Homo sapiens: one gene and its partners. The protein of the gene in region 2 interacts with the protein of the main gene of each other region in a pairwise test. Each region holds a gene or a part of one and is shown on either strand. Other genes may lie near its edges.

Evidence for each region.
Region 1: the proteins of LAPTM5 (region 2) and RNF168 interact in a two-hybrid assay, tested with the Homo sapiens proteins (one large-scale study listed by BioGRID and IntAct).
Region 3: the proteins of LAPTM5 (region 2) and SMURF2 interact in a two-hybrid assay, tested with the Homo sapiens proteins (one large-scale study listed by BioGRID and IntAct).
Region 4: the proteins of LAPTM5 (region 2) and WWP1 interact in a two-hybrid assay, tested with the Homo sapiens proteins (one large-scale study listed by BioGRID and IntAct).
Region 5: the proteins of LAPTM5 (region 2) and ANKRD13A interact in a two-hybrid assay, tested with the Homo sapiens proteins (one large-scale study listed by BioGRID and IntAct).
Region 6: the proteins of LAPTM5 (region 2) and AIG1 interact in binary tests that used the Homo sapiens proteins (3 or more experiments, as listed by UniProt).

Annotation. Positions count from the first base shown.
Region 1 is NC_000003.12:196,470,526-196,472,768, reverse strand, and holds part of RNF168 (E3 ubiquitin-protein ligase RNF168), read left to right. Parts: coding exon 1-950; 3' UTR 951-2,243. UniProt on the Homo sapiens protein: E3 ubiquitin-protein ligase required for accumulation of repair proteins to sites of DNA damage. Acts with UBE2N/UBC13 to amplify the RNF8-dependent histone ubiquitination.
Region 2 is NC_000001.11:30,751,275-30,754,774, reverse strand, and holds part of LAPTM5 (lysosomal-associated transmembrane protein 5), read left to right. Parts: intron 1-2,414; exon of another isoform or gene 2,415-3,500. UniProt on the Homo sapiens protein: May have a special functional role during embryogenesis and in adult hematopoietic cells.
Region 3 is NC_000017.11:64,652,308-64,655,807, reverse strand, and holds part of SMURF2 (E3 ubiquitin-protein ligase SMURF2), read left to right. Parts: intron 1-3,500. UniProt on the Homo sapiens protein: E3 ubiquitin-protein ligase which accepts ubiquitin from an E2 ubiquitin-conjugating enzyme in the form of a thioester and then directly transfers the ubiquitin to targeted substrates.
Region 4 is NC_000008.11:86,345,547-86,349,046, reverse strand, and holds part of WWP1 (NEDD4-like E3 ubiquitin-protein ligase WWP1), read right to left. Parts: intron 1-3,500. UniProt on the Homo sapiens protein: E3 ubiquitin-protein ligase which accepts ubiquitin from an E2 ubiquitin-conjugating enzyme in the form of a thioester and then directly transfers the ubiquitin to targeted substrates.
Region 5 is NC_000012.12:110,023,430-110,026,929, reverse strand, and holds part of ANKRD13A (ankyrin repeat domain-containing protein 13A), read right to left. Parts: intron 2,885-3,500; coding exon 2,818-2,884; intron 1,189-2,817; coding exon 1,107-1,188; intron 1-1,106. UniProt on the Homo sapiens protein: Ubiquitin-binding protein that specifically recognizes and binds 'Lys-63'-linked ubiquitin. Does not bind 'Lys-48'-linked ubiquitin.
Region 6 is NC_000006.12:143,067,389-143,070,888, reverse strand, and holds part of AIG1 (androgen-induced gene 1 protein), read right to left. Parts: intron 1-3,500. UniProt on the Homo sapiens protein: Hydrolyzes bioactive fatty-acid esters of hydroxy-fatty acids (FAHFAs), but not other major classes of lipids. Show a preference for FAHFAs with branching distal from the carboxylate head group of the lipids.

The DNA of each region.
Region 1 (2,243 bases), on a different chromosome or scaffold from region 2:
TTGACAGTAGTGATAGGAAAAGCCCAACAGGGCAAGACACAGAAATAGAAGATATGCCGACACTTTCTCCACAGATATCCCTTGGAGTTGGAGAACAAGGTGCAGATTCTTCAATAGAGTCCCCTATGCCATGGTTATGTGCCTGTGGTGCCGAATGGTACCATGAAGGAAACGTCAAAACAAGACCAAGCAATCATGGGAAAGAGTTATGTGTCTTAAGTCACGAGCGACCTAAAACCAGAGTTCCCTACTCGAAAGAAACTGCAGTTATGCCTTGTGGCAGAACAGAAAGTGGGTGCGCCCCCACATCAGGGGTGACACAGACAAATGGAAACAACACAGGTGAGACAGAAAATGAAGAGTCGTGCCTACTGATCAGTAAGGAGATTTCCAAAAGAAAAAACCAAGAATCTTCCTTTGAAGCAGTCAAGGATCCATGCTTTTCTGCAAAAAGAAGAAAAGTGTCCCCCGAATCTTCCCCAGATCAAGAGGAAACAGAAATAAACTTTACCCAAAAACTGATAGATTTGGAGCATCTACTGTTTGAGAGACATAAACAAGAAGAACAGGACAGGTTATTGGCATTACAACTTCAGAAGGAGGTGGATAAAGAGCAAATGGTGCCAAACCGGCAAAAAGGATCCCCAGATGAGTATCACTTACGCGCTACATCCTCCCCTCCAGACAAAGTGCTAAATGGACAGAGGAAGAATCCCAAAGATGGGAACTTCAAAAGGCAAACTCACACAAAGCATCCAACACCAGAGAGAGGCTCAAGGGACAAAAATAGGCAAGTGTCTTTAAAGATGCAGTTGAAGCAGTCAGTTAATAGAAGAAAGATGCCAAATTCTACTAGAGATCACTGTAAGGTATCCAAAAGTGCTCACTCCCTACAGCCTAGCATTTCACAGAAAAGTGTTTTTCAGATGTTTCAGAGATGCACAAAGTAAGGCCTGGTAAAGGGAGTGCTTTGTGATCTAGTAAAGCTGGAATGTGAAGCTCTTTCCTATCATGGAATCTTCATCCATGTGTCATTCATGCTGCTCTCTAGGCACACTCATTGTCCTTAATGAAGGTCTGTGTGATTGTAAGGACTGCATAGACACATGAGCTTCTGCACAGCTCAGCGGTAAGCAGGGGTCCCCTGTCGTTTCCCTTCTTAATAACAGATGTGTATTAAGCTTTACAATTCTTAGAGATATCTTAAGCTTTGGCCAACTCCAGGAAATCTTCAAGTGCCATTGTCTTTCCAAAAACTGCATGTTTTATGGCCTTTGCTCACCTTTTTGTCGTGACTGGTAATCAAAGCAAGATTATACTATTCTGAGTGATTAAGGAACCCATGCAGGGTTTAAAATCCATTTTCTTGCTATTGTCCAATGTTTACAGAGTACTCAAAAGGTTTTCCTAAAGTAATCTAATTTCCATCTCCAATTTAATTCAATTTTCAGCATTGTAGCATTTCCTTTGGTGTTTGTTTTTTTTTTTTAGACGGAGTTTCAAAATTTGGATTCATATTCATATGTGGGAAATCCCAGATTTTTTTTTTTTTTTTTTTTTTTTTTTTTTTTTGGAGACAGAGTCTTGCTCTGTCACGCAGGCTGGTGTGCAATGGCGCGATCTCAGCTCACTGCAACCTCCGCCTCCCGAGTTCAAGCGATTCTTCTGCCTCAGCCTCCCGAGTAGCTGGGATCATAGGCATGTGCCACTACACCCAGCTACCCAGCTAATTTTTTTTTTTTTTTGTACTTTTAGTAGAGATGGGATTTCACCATGTTGGCCAGGCTGGTCTTGAACTCCTGTCCTCAGGTGATCCACCTGCTTCGGCCTCCCAGAGTGCTGGGATTATAGGCGTGAGCCACCACGCCCGGCCTGTTTCCTTTGGTTTAAAGTGGATTCGAATCAGTGTTAAATCAGAAAATCAGGGTTTTCTAGGAAATTGGGAATTAGTTGCCAGAAAGGAAACTGAACTATGCAGAAGGAGTTAAGAGCTGGGATGAGGCTGGATGGGGTGACTGACAGTCCAGATCATTGAAACAGATTGGGTCGTCGGAAACTGGTCCAGATGAGGCTGGATGGGGTGACTGACAGTCTGGATCATTGAAACTGATTAGGTCGTCAGAAACGGGTCCAGACGAGGATGAGGCTGAGGCTGGATGGGGTGACTGACAGTCTGGATCATTGAAACTGATTGGGTGGTTGGTCAGAAACGGGTCCAGATGAGGATGAGGCTGAGGCTGGAT
Region 2 (3,500 bases):
ATTGAGTCATGAGGGCGTTATTACATGAGGGAAGCCTGGTCCGTAGCTTTGGGCTCGGGCATCTTCCTCAGGATGTCAGTGGGTTTGTGTAGAGGATTCTCTGGGTCACCCAAACTTGCACACTTTGGGAACCCAGCAAACTTTCTTTCTTTTTTTAAAAAATCTATTCTTTTTTTCAAAGTTCAGTAACTTGCCCATCTTTTGTGGTTTGATTTGTTTTGTTTTGTTTTTGTTTTTAAGAGATGGGGTCTTGCTCTGTCACCCAGGCTGGAATGCAGTGGTGCCATCACAGCTCACTGCAGCCTTGAACTCCTGGGTTCAAGAGATCCTCCCACCTCAGCTTCCTGAGTAGCTAGGATCACAGGCGCATGCCACCATGGCCAGCTAATTTTAAATATTTTTTTTTGTAGAGACAGGGTCCCACTATGTTGCCCAGGCTGGTCTCAAACCCTTGGCCTCAAGTGATTCTCCTGCCTTGGCCTCCCAACGCGCTGGGATTACAGGCATGAGCCACCGAGCCCAGTCTAGAGAAATTTCTTAAATTGGGTCTCTTGGGTCCTGGCTTTTTGTCAACCTGAAGCACGTTCTAAGTCGATGGTAGAAAGTGGACACCCCCAGAAGACACTTTTGCCCAGAAATCTCTTTCTTCCTGACCCCTCTTCCCCAGAGTGCCCGGAATTCCACTGTCAGAAATGCATTGTCTGGGTTAAAAAACTTAACACCTGCTATGATTTCAACAGTGTCAAAACAGGATACGTCAAAACTGGGCGAGGAGGAAATGTATTTGGGTTCTAGGATAGTGAAAGCTCTATTTTTTCTACTTTTCTGTATTTTCCATATTTGGTACAATGAGCACGTACTTAGAACGGTTTTAGATTTACGAAAATATTGCAAACACAGTACAGATAGTTCTTGCGTCCCCCATGCCTAGTTCCTCTATTGCTAACGTCTCAACGTTAGTGTGGTGCGTTTGTTGCAATGGGTGAATGAATATTCGTGGGCTGTTATTAAAGTCAGTGCTTCACCCCTATTTCCCCAGCTTTCCTCTTACATCCTTTTTCTGTTCCAAGATTGCATCCAGGATGCCGCGTTACATTTAGTCTTCACACTTCCTTAGGTTCCTCTTGGTATGATGGTTTCTCAGATTTTTCTTGTTTTTGATAATCTTGACAGTTCGAGGAGTATTTGTCAGGCATTTTGTCAAATGTTCTTCAACTGGGGTCTCTGGTGGTTTTCTCATGATTAGTCTGGGAATGTGCTTTTGGGAGGAAGACCACAGAGATGATGTGCCAGTCTCAGAACATCGTACTAAGAAAAGGTTCTGCCAACTTGACTTACCACTGTTGCTGGTGACTTTGAGCCCCCGGCTGAGGTTACTCCTTTGTAAAGTTACTCTTTTTTTCTCCTTTCCATGCTGTATGTTTTAGAAGGAAGTCACTATGCTGCTCCAAGCAACTCAAGTTTGATGAATGGGGAGTTCCGCCCCACCTCCTTGAGGGCAGAGTAGCTACATAAATTACTTGGAATTTCTCAAGGAGATTTGTCTGTACTCCCAGTTTATTATATAAATAAATGATTTATTTATATTACAGGGACCCAGGGATCTTTACTGTATGCTTTGGGTTATAATCCAATGGTACTTTACTTTGTGGCTCAAGTATACTACTTTTAAATTGGAAAAAAAAAAAAGTACGGCCAGGTGCGGTGGCTCATGCCTGTAATCCCAGCATTTTGGGAGGTTGAGGCGGGTGGATCACTTGAGGTCAGGACAAAACCCTGTCTTTACTAAAAATACAAAAAATTAGCTGGGCATGATGGCGGGAGCCTGTAGTCCAAGCTACGCGGGAGGCTGAGGCAGGAGAATTGCTTGAACCTGGGAGGTGGAGGTTGCAGTGAGCCGAGATCGCGCCACTGCGCTCTAGCCTGACAGAGTGAGACTCTTTAAAAAAAAAAAAGGTAAAGCATTCAAATCATAGTATTTGAAGAAGGAGTCTCTATTGCCCTGACCTCGTGCAGGTAAGTTCACCCATGTGCCCAGCCCCAGGCCGGGATACAGCCCTGACTCATTCACGGCCTCTGCCCTTGAGGGGCCAGTCTGCCAAGGAAAAACCGACGAGGACAATGGATGACATTGCTGGCTATGATGGGGGCACAGATGTAGGGCTGGAGGTTGGGATTCTGGAATAGCTTCTTGGAGGAGGTCTGAGTCTTAAGGATGAGTAGGGCTTTGCTTGGGCACCTTGGAAAAGAGGTCACGCTGGGCGGGGGGAGTAGCATGACACAGGCTTGGAGGGGAAGGACCCTGCAGTGCTTCAGAGACCTAGCAGGTTTGTCAAGCTGGGTTAGGAGGGGTGGCCACGAGGTGTGTCGGGGAGGAGGGTGGAGAGGTCCCCAGGGGTGGGACCTGCCCGAGTCCTTTGCTTTTACAAGCTTCAGAGCTAAGAAGATGGATCTCTCTTCGGCCTATCAGCTCATTTTGCAGATGGGAAAACAGGTCCAGCAGGGCCCCTTACTTGCTCCAGGACACATGGAGAGATGGGGCAGGAGCTTGCTTCAGGTCCCCCTGCTGGCACACAGGTGTGTGGAATGATCCAGAAAGTGGGCAAATGAGTTCCTTCCCTGCCCCATGGCTGGGGTGGTGTGTCTGTCTGGGAGGCCCTGCCCTCATCCAGCCTCCCACCATTCATTTCTTCTTTATGGTCCAGTTTACGGGAAGCTTCCTCCTCCAGGAAGCTCTCCTGATTTGTCCTCCTTAGAACTCCTGGGGCTCTTTTCTCTGCTCCACTTTGGGGGCAGTGATTTGTGATTGAAAGGAACACAGGCCCATCTCCATTACTTACCAGCAGTGTGACTTGAGCAGGCGGGCACCTTTGTTATCTGAGCCTTGCCTTCCTCATCTGTAAATGGGGCCAGTGGTCCCTGCCTCAAAAGTGATCATTTGGAGGAGACCCTAGCGAAGCCGGGTGGAGGGCTAGCAGGTGAGTGCCTGAAGTGGGCTGTGGAAGAAGAACACAAGGCCCCCCGCCCCTTTTTTTTGAGACTGAGTCTTGCTCTATCACCCAGGCTGGAGTGCAGTGGCGTGATCCTGGCTCACTGCAACCTCTGCCTCCCGGGTTCAAGTGATTCTTGTGCCTCAGCCTCCCAAGTAGCTGGAATCACAGGTGTGTGCCATCATGCCCGGCTAAGTTTTGTATCGTTAGGAGAGATGGGGTTTCACCATGTTGGCCAGGCTGGTCTTGAACTCCTGACCTCAAGTGATCCACCAGCCTCAGCCTCCCAAAGTGCTGGGATTATAGGCGTGGGCCATAGTGCCTGGCCCCACTCCTCTGTTGAAAGTTCATCTGTTTGGGGTTGAAAAATGGGTCCAAACTGCCAGGTGGGGAAAACCCTGGGTGAGAATCTGTTAGAACTTGCCACCTTTATGTCCAGTGCCCCTGGGCTGGACAGAGAGGCCACGTTCTCTGCCACTGCAGCTCTGTGCGCTTCACGGAGGGGTGAGG
Region 3 (3,500 bases), on a different chromosome or scaffold from region 2:
TTCTCCTGCCTCAACCTCCCTAGTAGCTGGGATTACAGGTGCATGCCACCACTCCCAGCTAATTTTTTTTTGTATTTTTTTTGGGTGGAGATGGGTTTACACCATGTTGGTCAGATTGGTCTCGAACTCCTGACCTCAAGTGATCTGCCCACCTTGGCCTCCCAATTTCTTTTCATTTGTTTTGGTAGTCTTATTTTTTTCTTCCACATAAATATTAAACTTGTTAAGTTTAATAAGAAGTTTCATTGGGGCCGGGCATGGTGGCTCACGGTTGTAATCCTTGGACTTTGGGGAGGCTGAGGATGGTGGATCATCTAAGGTCAGGAGTTTGAGACCAGCCTGGCCAACATGGTGAAACCCTGTCTCTACTAATAATACAAAAATTAGTTGAGTGTGGTGGCACATACTTGTAATCCTAGCTACTGGGGAGGCTGAGTCACAAGAATCGCTTGAACCTGGGAGGTGGAGGTTGCAGGCGAGATCATGCCACTGCACTCCAGCCTGGGCGACAGAGTGAAACTGTGTCTCCAAAAAAAAAAAAAAAAAAAAAAAAAAGACATTTCATTGGGATTGTCATTAGAATTGCTTTACTTTGGGAAAAAGAAGTATCTAAGTTTATTTAGTTTTCTCACCCAGGAACATGATATGTTTTTTACATTTATTTAAGCTTTGGCCCATATTGTTCAGGATAGCTTTATAATTTTCTTCCTGTGTTTGAATTTAATTTCAGATAATTTATATTTGTGTGATTTACGTTGTGTTTTCTAATCCTAGTTATTGCTTGTATTTAGGAATGCAGTTATATGTATTTTGCTTGATTAGAAGAATTTTGGCTGGGTGTGGTGACTCACGCCTGTTATCCCAGCACTTTGGGAGGCCAAGATGGGAGGATCACTTGAGCCCAGGAGTTCGAGACCAGCCTGGGCAACATAGTGAGACCTCATCTCTATATTTATTTATTTATTATTATTATTTTTTGATACTGAGTTTTGCTCTTGTTGCCCAGGCTGGAGTGCGATGGCGCCATCTCGGCTCACTGCAACCTCTGCCTCCTGGGTTCAAGCGATTCTCCTGCCTCAGCCTCCTGAATAGCTGGGATTATAGGCATGTGCCACCGCGCCCGGCTAATTCTGTATTTTTAGTAGAGATGGGGTTTCTCCATGTTGGTCAGGCTGGTCTCAAACTCCTGACCTCAGGTGATCCGCTTGCCTCGGCCTCCCAAAGTGCTGGGATTACAGGCATGAGCCACCGCACCCAGCTGATGGCTGGTTTTCTAGGTGTCAGTGTTTGGTACTTGTTACAGTTGAATGTTAACACTTAAAATTTTTCTTTTCTCTCGGATTTCTCTCCAACATATAAGTAGTTGAACAAAGTGAGAAATTTTATTTCATTAAAAATTTTTTAAATACGAGCAGTCTTCTGAACAAGAATAGTTTCAGACCAACTCTGTTTTAGAATAGCTTCTGATGGCATTGGCTACCTTTTTTAAAACCACATTTGATATTATATTAAAAAGTGTCAACAGATAATCTGAAGTTTGGCAGTTTGGTTTGGTTTTGTACAAAAATTGGTAGCAGACATAAAGTTTAAATTTTTAAATAAACCTCGATGATTCATTTTTAGGGAGGAATTACCACGTGGATGATTGCAATCATGCAATGTTCTTCCCATTTCTTCCCAAAAAGTTTCTTCCCAAAACATTTTCTCTTACCTCTTTGTAGCCAGTTGTCTTCTTCAATACCGAGAACTTGTCAACCACTGATCTGTTTTCGGTCACTATAATTTTGCCTTTTCTAGGATTTTGAGTAAATGGAATCATACTGTCTGCAGTCTTTTGGGTGAGGCTTCTTTTAGCGTAATGCTTTTGAGATCCATTCATGCTGGGTATCAGTACTTTGTTCCTTTTCATTCCTGAGGAATACTGCATTGTACACCAATTTGTTTATCCATTTATAAATATCTGCAGACATTTGTTGTTTCCAGTTTTTGGCCATTACGAATAAACATTTGAGTACATGGCTCTTTGTGAACATGTTTTTCTTGCCCTTGGGTAAATGAGTGGGATTGTTGCATCATACAGAAAGTATGCATTTTAACTTTTTAAAAATCTGCTGGGCGGATTGCTTGAGCCCAGGAGTTTGAGACCAGCCTGGGCAACATGGCAAAACTCCGTCTCTACAAAAAATACAGAAATTGGTCGGGTGTGGCCTGTGCCTGTAGTATCAGCTACCTGAGAAGCTGATGGAGGATTGATTGGGCCTGGGAAGTTAAGGCTGCGGTGCTGTGCTCACACCACTGCATTCTAGTGTGGGTGACTCTGTCTCAAAAAAAAAAATTTTTTTTTTTTCAAAGTTGTACCATTTTGCATTTCTACCAGCATTGTATGAGTTTCAGTAGTTCCTCATCCTAGTCAGCACTTGATACTGTCTTTGATTTTAGCCATTCTAATTGGTAGGTACAGATATTTCATGGTACTTTAATTTTTACTTCCTTAATAACCTACAGTTTTAAGCACATTTTAATGGACTTATTTATTGTCCATATAATCTTTGGTGAATATCCAAATCTTTTGTTCATGTTTTAAAATTGGATTGTTTTCTTATTGAGTTTTGAGAATTCTTTATGTATTCTGGATATAAGCCTTTTATGAGATATATACTTTGCAAATATTTTCTCCCGGACTGTAGCTCCCCCACCGCCCCCCAAAAGATGTCCCAAAGAGAAGAAGTTTTGAATGCTGATGAAACCTGTTTATCAGTGTTTTTCTTTTGTGGTTCATGTTTTTTGAGTCCTAAGTCTTTTTCTAACCCAGAGTTCTAAAGATTTTCTCTGTGTTTTCTTCTGCATTATTTATAATTTTAACTCATACATTTAAACTTATTTTCAAGTTAATTTTTTAATATGCTGTGAGAAGTAAGTGTCATGATTTTTTTTTCATATGGATATTCTATTTTTGTAGCCCTATTTGTTGAAAATACTTTTGTTTCCTCCATTGAATTGTCTTGGCACCTTGGTAGAAAATCAGTTGACAGGCCAGGTGCGGTTGCTCATGCCTATTCTTTGGGAGGCCGAGGCAGGAGGCTCACATGAGGTCAGGAGTTCTAGACCAGCCTGGCCAACATGGCAAAACCCCGTCTCTACTAAAAATAAAAAATTAGCCAGGTGTGTGGCAGGTGCCTGTCATCCCAGCTACTCGGGAGGCTGAGGCAAGAGAATCACTTGAACCCAGGAGGTGGAGGTTGCAGTGAGCTGAGATTGTGCCACTGCACTCCAGCCTGGGCGACAGAGCGAGATTCTGTCTCAAAACAAACAAACAAACAAATCAGTTGACAGTATACATAGAATTCTATTTCTGGACTCTCCTGTGTTTTCTTTATGATTCTACCCTTTAAGTTTATTTGTTTTAACACTATGCTGTCTTGATTACTATAGCTTTAAAATAAAGCAGCTTTCAAACAAATTGAGTCTTTGATTTAGGATCTTGTAGTGCTTTGGAGCGG
Region 4 (3,500 bases), on a different chromosome or scaffold from region 2:
CCCTCTCAAAAAAAAAGATCTGGTTGCTTCTGTTTTGTACTCTTGTGAGCCCTAAGCCATCAGCTACCAGGTAAGGCCAGCAACTCTGCTGGAAAGGCTACTTGGAGAGAAAAGCAGCCATTAGAGTGATCACCAGCAAAACCTGCCCAACTGAGCCCAACCCAGGAAAGCAAAACTGTAACAAAGAAAATGGTTGTTTTAAGTCACTTGGTTTAGGGCTGTTTGCTACACAGCAGTACATAACTGAAACAACACTCACCTGGTTCCTTGTGTGTTCTGCATAATTTGTTCAAACCCCAGAAAAAGGAGAGGTATAATTAATTACACTCCGCAAAATTACAACCTGAGAAGATAAAGTTCTATGCCCTTGTTAATGTTAGTGATTCCACTAAACTCCAGGTTCCAAGAGGAAAGGCTTCATATCTGTCATCTCAACACTGTACTCCCAGCACCTAGAAATATGTCTGGCACATAGTAGGTACGCCAGTATGTGCTGTGAGTGAACTGTAGATTTAAGAAATGTCAAGACGGCCAGGCGTGGTGGCTCATGCCTGTAATCCCAATACTTTGGGAGGCTGAGGCGGGCAGATCACCTGTGGTCTGGAGTTCAAGACCAGCCTGACCAACATGGAGAAACCCCGTCTCTACTAAAAATACAAAATTAGCCAGGTGTGGTGGTGCATGCCTGCAATCCCAACTACTTGGGAGGCTGAGGCAGGAGAATCTCTTGAACCCAGGAGGCGGAAGCTGCAGTGAGCCAAGATTGCGCCATTGCACTCCAGCCTGGGCAGCAAGAGGGAAACTCCGTCTCAAAAAAAAAAAGAAAAAAGAAATGTCAAGACTAAATCAACAAATGCTACTCTTCCTTATAACTTAAAAACCATGCTAGTCTTCCTTATAACTTAAAAACCATCTGACGTATGGTTTTACATTATACATTCCCTAAAAAAGTTGTTTAAATGTATGAATTGAAGCATCCACTAAGGAGGGCTTTTTAATATCTTTGGGTTTTTTTCAATGGTAGAGCTTATGATCTAATACAAAAATAATAAAATATCATGATACAGGTTGAGTATCCCTAATCCAAATATCCAAAATCTGAAATACTCCAGTGAATGTTTCTGTTGAGTAATGTAGGTGGCTCAAAGTTTCCCATTTTGGAGCATTTCAAACTTTGAATTAGGGATACCCAATCTATATATATTTTGGAAATTAGATCCTCATTTATATCCTCAAAAAATGTAAATTTTTGAAGACTAAGCTTTTATAAAAGGGAAACACAAACTTCATCTGTAAAAGCAACAGAATTAAATTCAAAATTTTCAAAAAAATAAATATCTACATTTCACCAATGTACTTTTCCAGATAAGAAATCAACTTTTGCTTTATCCTTGACAGGAGAATAACTATTCTGTGGTACAATGCTTACAAATTTAAATATCACCTACCAATAGCCACTGCAGTGAGATTACCATTTTAACACAAAGGAAAAAACTGACAAGTTTACCTCTACACGGTACAAAAGTTTAACACATTCCAAACAGGTAAATTCAAATCCTTCACATACAGCTCTTAACTAATGATGTTCCATTGTACATGAAGAGTAAGAAGTCTGGTGGGAAAAGAATACTGACATAGGAACAAAAATAAGGGTTTTAGTTGTAGTTCTAATTGTGGCCACTAACTAGCCACATACTTTGGAAATTTAACTTTTTAAACTTTTTTTTTAGCCTCAGCATATTCATCCAAAAAGCAATGATTGGCTGGAAGCGATGGCTCACGCCTGTAATTCCAGCACTTTGGAAGGCCATGGTGGGAGGGCCACGAGTCCAGGAGTTCGAGGCCAGCCTGAGGAAACACAGCAAGACCCCATCTCTATAAAAAATTTTAAAAATTTAGCTGGGTGTCATGACATACACCTGTAGTCCCAAGTACTTGGGAGGCTGAGGTCTAGGCTTCAGTTTAGCCATGACTGTGCCACTGAACTCCAGCCTGGGCAACAGAGCAAGACCCTGTCTCAAAAATAAATAAATAAAATAAAATAAAATAAAATATAAAGCAGTTATTACTTCCTAACACACCAACTTATCAGTTGTCATGAGAACCAAATGATAAATATAGTTATTATTTACAAATGTGAAATGCTATACTAACATAAGGTATAGTACAATTCTTAATGCCAGCAAAAACAATAAAATTCATCTGTGTATGTTTTTATCATTTTTCCTCCATTAAGTATTAGTAACTAGTTCCTTGGATACCACTATAAAGGGCAATTTATTGGATTTTCCAATGCTCATTATAATTGTATCATATTTTTATACAAAGAGTAAAAAACAACAGTCTTTCTAATAATTATGAAATCAAAGTTTATTAACATGTAATAACATGCTATGATTACCTATTACCAGGGAGATAATCTTACAGGTGCAGAAAAGTCAACTGTTTACCAATCGCACTACACTTTAACCGTACTAGCTAGCTACTTAATCCACCCAAAAAAAATTGAGTAGGAATCTTCATTTACATTGTGAAGTCTCCATTTTTATTTGATAAAGGCTTCCTGAAAGAAAAGAATATTCTGAAGGTATAAATGAACAGAGAAGATAAAGTTCTTTTTTTTTGAGACAGAGTCTCGCTCTGTTGCCCAGGCTGGAGTGTAGTGGCGCAATCTCGGCTCACTACAAGCTCCGCCTCCCGGGTTCACACCATCCTCCTGCCTCAGCCTCCCAATAAAGTTCTTAAAGTTTCTTATTTCACTTACATCACCTCTCTCCTCCCTACTCCCCAGCCCAAAGTGAGACATACAAAGAAAGTAACAATCCAAATGAATGATCTGATATTGCTAACTGCTCTTCTCTACCCAATTCATCCCTCAGACTCACCAGCTCTCATGCACATATTAAACAAGGAGAGTAGATACTCTGATGAAAGTCTAGGACTCGAGAATCACAAAATGTTAAAAACTAGAAGGAATCTTGTGGGATCATCTAGTCTTACTGACAAGGTCATTTAAAGGCAGTAACTATATTTAATTGATGGTAAAGCCACTGCATTATCTTCATACATGAAAGAACACCATCATTGTCAACAATCTCCTGATTCCACTTTACCCACCAGCTGAATGATGCTTCAGGCAAATCATTTAAACTCCAGGAATAGTTTATTGTGTAATATAATAGCAAATAACATTAGTCAAAATTCTCTGTAAACTGTAAACCACAACACAAATGTAATATTGTGTTTCTGTATATATACAGCATATCTCTACAGTAAGAGTTCTTATCAGTACACAGAAGAACCTGAAGGTTCTACTGTTTTAAAAAGCTCCCAGTAGGCCCGGCAGGGTGGCTTACGCTGTAATCCCAGCACTTAGGAAGGCCAAGGCAAGCTGATCACTTGAGCTCAGGAGTTCAACACGAGCCTGGGCAAAATAGTGAGACCCCATCTCTAAAAAAAAAATACAAAAATTAGCCGGGTGTGGTGGCAAGCGCCTGTAG
Region 5 (3,500 bases), on a different chromosome or scaffold from region 2:
CAAGAATGAGTCAGACTAAGGAAATTTTCTTTCCTTTTTCTTTTTTTTGAGACAGAGTCTAGCTCTGTCACCCAGGCTGGAGTGCAGTGGGACAATCTTGGCTCACAGCAACCTCCACCTCTGGGGTTCAAGCGATTCTCCTGCCTCAGCCTCCCCAGTAGCTGAGACTACAGGAGTGCGCCACCACGCCTGGTTAATTTTTGTATTTTTAGTAAAGATAGGGTTTCACCATATTGGCCAGGCTGGTCTCAAACTCCTGGCCTCAAGTGATCTGCCCACCTTGGCCTCCCAAAGTGTTGGGATTACAGGTGTGAGCCACCGTGCTCAGCCAGGAAATTTTTTTTTTTTTTTTGAGATGGAGTTTCACTCTTGTTGTCCAGGCTGGAGTGCAATGGCACGATCTCAGCTCACCAAAACCTCCGCCTGCCAGGTTCAAGTGATTCTCCTGCCTCAGCCTCCTGAGTAGCTGGGATTACAGCCATGGGCCACCACACCCAGCTAATTTTGTATTTTTTTTTAGCACAGATGGGGTTTCTCCATGTTGGTCAGGCTGGTCTTGAATTCCCGACCTCAGGTGACTCGCCCACATTGGCCTCCCAAAGTGTTGGGATTACAAGCATGAGCCACCGTGCCTGGCCAGAAATTTTTATAAAAAAGAAGTTAGGGGCCAGGCACGGTGGCTCACGCCTGTAATCTCAGCACTTTCGGAGGCCGAGGTGGGTGAGGATCACCTGATGTCAGGAGTTCGAGACCAGCCTGGCCAACATGGTGAAACCCCGTCTCTACTGAAAATACAAAAAATTAGCCGGGCGTGGTGGTGGGTGCTTGTAATCCCAGCTACTCAGGAGGCTGAGGCAGGAGAATCACTTGAACCCAGGAGGCAGAGGTTGCAGTGAGCCAAGGTCGTGCCACTGCACTCCAGCCTGGGTGACAGGGCGAGACTTTGCCTCAAAAAAAAAAAAAAAGAGAGAGAGAGAGAAGAAGTTAGGGTTAGGCTTAACACAACCCAATCACATTAACCCTAAACTTAACAGAGCCAACAAAGAGTTCCCTCTAGGCTTAAAAAATAACAACAAAACAGGAGGTGGGAGGGTGGTGGTGATTACCTTTATATCTCTTTTTTTCCTCCTCGGTCAGATGTTCTGTGCGTATTTTGGTGATCACATTCACATTGTTTACTGTGTAAACCTGAGAGGTGTATGCGAAAGAAAACAGTGACACAGGGAATCAAAACTCCAAAAGTAAGCACAGCAAAAGCAAGAATGCTGAAGCAAAAAACAGAAAACAATCCAGCAAAATAAAAATGAGAAATGGTTAACTATCATTAGGATCCTTCAGAGAAAGTATATAAACTATCAACTGAAAAATGCATCAGCAGTTACCTCCCATGTTTGACAGTTTTAATACTAAGGAGTTAGCAGTGACAGGCTGCATCTTCCTGCTTGCCCTGCTGTGGCTAAATAGTCTCAAACAAATGCCCTGCAATCTAGGTTTCCACCTGGGTTTCTATTAAACTAAGGTACCCAAACCAGGATCCTGTACTTCTGTTGGTAATTTTTTTTTTTTTTTTTTTTGAGACAGAGTCTCCCTCTGTTGCCCAGGCTGGAGTGCAGTGGCGTGATCTCTGCTCACTGCAGCCTCCGCCTCCTGGGTTCAAGCGATTCTCGTGCCTCAGCCTCCAGAGTAGCTGGGATTACAGGCATGTGCTACTATGACTGGTTAATTTTCGTATTTTTAGTAGAGACGGGGTTTCACCATGTTGGCCAGGCTGGTCTCAAAATCCTGGCCTCAAGTGATCTGCCTACTTGGGCCTCCCAAAGTGCTGGGATTACAGGCGTGAGCCACTGCACCCAGCCTCCGCTGGTAGTCTTGTAATACTAGTATGACTCAGACAGCCATCTGCTGGGCAGAAGAGAAAGGTATGAACACAAGGTTCTCTATAGACTTATGAGCTGTAGAGAAAACCAGCAAGTCACTATTTAAAAGGCATTCTGTGCACTGACAAAAATTATTGTAACTGCCAGAGCAAATGCTCTGTTATCAAGGATAACTGGGGAATATGGTGGTCTAGAAAATCAAACATAACAGTTAACAAAGAATTCTCTCTATATGCCACGTGAGGAGCCCCAACATTCAAAGCTGCAGAAAACACACTCAGCACTATGACAAGTGCTTCTAAATGTATCTTGCTGAGCATGACGTAAGCCTTTCTTTGCTCACTCAGAGGCCACCAGAGGACCCTGCAGCACTGGGCTCCAACACCAAAAGCCATCAATCCCTGTTGTACTGAGGGACTGAAAGGCCAGGAAACAGCTTTCCAGCTGACAAAATGCCAGATGACTGGATCAACAATCGTCTCCACTATTACAACTATGTTTTAAATGCACTGATGTCATGCAAATGGGCTGTGCGCCTGCTGATTACAATTAAGCTGATTTAACAAAAAAGAGACTCAAAAGCTACTACACAACATTTGAACACATGTGAAGTCTAATCCTTCCTCTTCCTTTTTTTTTTTTAAATAATTAAGGGAATGACTAGCTTGTCATTCCTACCAGAACAACTGGTACCTGTACTCATTTCTCTACCATATTGTTTCTCTTTAGCATAGCTACAGACCTCCTCAGGGCATGCTATCCCATTTTCTGAAAGTCAAATAAGACAAAATCAAACATCCAAGTGAGAGACACATTAGACAGTTCTCATTCCCCAGAGCATCTCCATGGCACAGATGCATGAAAAAAATGGGAACAGATTCCTCATTTGCATAGAAGCTAAATAGCTATATTAAATCTTATTTTAAGAGTTTCCTTTTACCTTTGCTTCGTAACCATTAACAACTTCTGCTTTATCTGTCCTCCAGCCCCAGAATCCGGATTTAGTTCTGATAAAAAGTGAACACCACAAATTTCTACATGTACAATATGCCATTCAGATTTATATCTGTAGCCTTTATAGTTTTTTTCCCCCCCAGCTTAAGTTAGTGAAGGACACTTGGAAATCATGGTCCTATTGTCCACAGGAGGCGGTTAGCAATGACAGATGGCTTATGCACCCTCCACCCTCCTCCCACAGTTATTAATCAATTTGCCTCACCCCAGGCATAGAAAGCCTCCAATCTTGGCTTCTTTACAAAACTGCCAGCATTGAGGACAAAGGTGGTGACATTTATTGGACAGCAGTCCCAAAGAAGTGACTGAAGATGACCAGCATCCAAGGGCTTGCCACAAGGTGGTAACCAGGTCAGAGCATTTATCTGGGTCATCTTAACTGGGGACATGCATGTCAATGGTGGGATCTCCACAAGTAGCCACATCTCACTCGAGGAATTCTTAGAACAATGAGGCACAGACCATCCTGCTCCTTACAAAAGAGCAGGTGGGCCAGGAACTCATCACTGTGGTGAGCTGCTTGGAGATGCCATTAGGTCTGCAAAATAGCTGAGTCACATGTTTGGGCAGGTTTGGTGCAGCAGGGCAAAGGATGTGAAAAACAGATTT
Region 6 (3,500 bases), on a different chromosome or scaffold from region 2:
CAATTAAAATGTCAATTAAATATAAAAGGGTCACTGCCGTTGAATGTTTTTGTCTCTAAAATTCATGTGGAAGCTTAATCCCCAATCTAACAGTATTAAGAAGTAAGGCCTTTTAAGAGGTGATTGAGTCATGAGGATTCTGCCATTAATGGATTAATGTGTTAACAGATTATCACAGGAGAGTTAGTTATCACAAGAGTGGGTCTGTCATAAAAGCTAGTTTGGCTCTTTCTCTTATGCCTCTCTTGTCCTGTGATGCCTTCCACCATGCTATGGTGCATCAAGAAGGCTCTCACCAGATGCCAGCACCATGCTTTTGTACTTTTGAGCCTCCAGAACTGTAAGACATAAGTTTCTTTTCTTTATAAATTACCCAGTCTGTGGTATTCTGTGATAGCAACACAAAATGGACTAAGAAAATAAAAATTTCTAAAAAAAAATTAAAAATACCATTCACAATAGCACTAATCAAAAATAAAATAGGTATAAACCTAACAAAATACACGCACAAACTATATGCTGAAAACTACAAAACATCAATGAAAGAAATTTAAAAATCTAAATAAATGAAGAGATATGTCATGTTCATGGGTTGGAAAAGTAAATATTGTTAAGATGTCCAACTTTCCCCAAATCGTTTTATAGATTCAATTAAATTCTACTAAAAAATCCAAGTACAATTATCTGTAGATATTAACAAGATTATTCTAAATTTAAACAAAAAGGAAAAGTAATTAGAATAGCATAAACAAATTTTGAAAAAGAACAAAGTTAGATGATTCTCACTACCTGCTTCGAAGATTTACTATAAAGCTGCAATCAACAATGTGTGGTACCTGTGAAGGGACACACACATCAGTGGAGCAGAACAGAATCCAGAAACAGACACACAAATGTAGTCAATTGATTTTTGACAAAGGTGCAAACGTAATTCAATGGCAAAATGACAATCTTTTCAAGACACGGTGCAGGGAAAATTGCACAACATATACCAGAAAAAAAGGATTATAGATAAAAATGTAAAACCTAAAACTTTAAAACTTCTAGGAGGTTCCATAAAAAGAAGAAAAATGGTAAATTTTGTATCATCAAAATGAACTTTTGCTCTGTTTAAGACACTATTGATAAAATAAACTACAGACAGGAAGAAAACATTTGCAAATCACATATTTGCCAAAGAGCTTTCATTTGGCAAACATAAAACCTCTCAAAGCTTAATAATAATAAAACAACCCAGTATTTTTTAAATGGGCAAACTTCACAAAGAACATGAATATATTATTAAAAGGCACAGGAAAAGATAATTAACAACTTCAGTCATGAGGGGAACTCAAAACCACAATGAGATAGTGCTACACACCTATTAGAATGGCTGAAATAAAAGAAAAATTGACAACGCCACACTCTGAAGATACAATATGAGTTCCCATCTGTGGAGCTCTCACACATTGCTGGTGGTAATGCAACATGGCACATCCACTCTGGAAAATTGTGCATCTATCAAAACTGTGCATCTATCAAAACTATGCATCTGTCAAAACTTACAGTATTGTATACTAAAAAGAATAAATTGGCCGCGCGCGGTGGCTCATGCCTGTAATCCCAATACTTCGGGAGGCCAAGGCAGGTGGATCGCTTGAGCCCAGGAGTTCGAGCCCAACCTGGGCAACATGGCGAAACCCCGTCTCTACTAAAAATACAAAAAAATTAGCCAGGAGTGGCGGCATGCACCTGTAATCCCAGCTACTCGGGAGGCTGAGGCGGGAGAGTCACTTGAACCTAGGAGATGGAGGTTGCAGTGAGCCGAGATCACGCCAGTGCACTCTAACCTGGGCGACAGAGTGAGACTCCATTTCAAGAGAAAAAAAAAAAAAGGAATAAATTTTAGTGTATGTGGATGAAGAATTTATAAAAACCATATGTTCATATTGAATTTTTTGTTTTTTTAACAGAAGTATATATATGACTGAAAAGTCAAATATCAAAATACTAACATCAGTATCTCTAAGTGATATCCGTAATTTTAAAATAAGTTTTAAAGAATATGATTTTTTCTGATATCTGACTACATACGTATGAACACACATATACATATATACTGTAGTCTCTCTATGTTCCTGTATGTACTAAAGTTCCAAAATAAATACCATCCTGAAGCACTAAAATGCTAAGATGCAAGGAAAATTAGGGAGAATTAAGATGGACTATATTTTCTTCCCTGTATTTCTATTGTTTCCTGTATTTGCACAAATTTTCTATAATAAGTATGTATCGCTTTTGAAATTAATTTTTAAAATTATAACACAACCTGACAGACCTAAATATAAGACAATGTGAGTGCACTAATGCATTGTCTGACTTTTCAGAATTCCATGCTTCTGTCTTACATCTTGTTCAATTCCACAATGGATCTGATCAAGTGGTGTCTCACTTTCCAAGAAAGCTCTGCTTCCACCGCACTCAGAAGGGCTACCCTGCAGGTGAGGCATGGGCCCTTTAACTGTCTAACTACAGACTGCACAAGAGAGCTATGTTGTATAGAATCCTAAGCAGTAAGATTTTTCCAAGCACGCTTGGATCACATGAACATCTGATTCAATGTGGAAAATTGTACTGTTGTTCTTGCTTCCCCCAGAAACATGACATTTCAGAGGAACACACAGAAACAAATGAAAACCCTCAAGAGCAGTTACCAATTTTGCCAAATGTTATACCAGACATGGGGGAATGGCAGGAATGGGAAAAGAAGTGACCTCAACTAGTGGTCAGATGACTTTCTGTAATTTCAATACCATTTGCAACTAAGAGGGAATGGGTGATTATATCATCAACTATTTCCCCCACTCTAACAAAACCAGGCCCCTATTTTATGCCTGATCCAAAAGAAACATGCAAAGAAGGTGAAGAGGATTCTATGCAAAGCATTATTCTCACAATTCTTCCTCCAGGTTAGGAAAAAACATTATTTGAGCCTTCAAGTTTATATGCATATTTTAGGGTCAAGTCTGAGTCTCCTGAAGAAAAAAATTGCAATTTTACACTCTCTGTATAATATCCAAAACCCCAAAAAACAAAAAACAGAAAAAAATCCACCTAATTTTGTTCCCTGAGTACTCAATAAACTACTGGCCTTCACGTGGCAATGTGTGGTTTTGACTGGCAAAACTAAGTACCATAGTTACATAATGACATGCAGAATCTCTTCTCAAGGTATTTTATTTCCTATTTAAAATTAAGTCATGAACTAGAGACAAGAATATGTTTTATGATAAGTATGTAAATAAATATAAGACTAACTCAAATGCAAAATGTAGTATACTTAAGCAGCTTATTTTCCCTCTTTAACATTTTTTAAATGTCAAAAATTCTCAGCATGTCTAAAAGCAAAAATGGTATCGTCCAGGTACACTTGACTATTTCCTATTCTTTGAGCACCCCAAGCTTTTCCACATCTGAGACTTTATTTATCCTCATCTCTCTCTGGTTTTCTGAAATTCCTT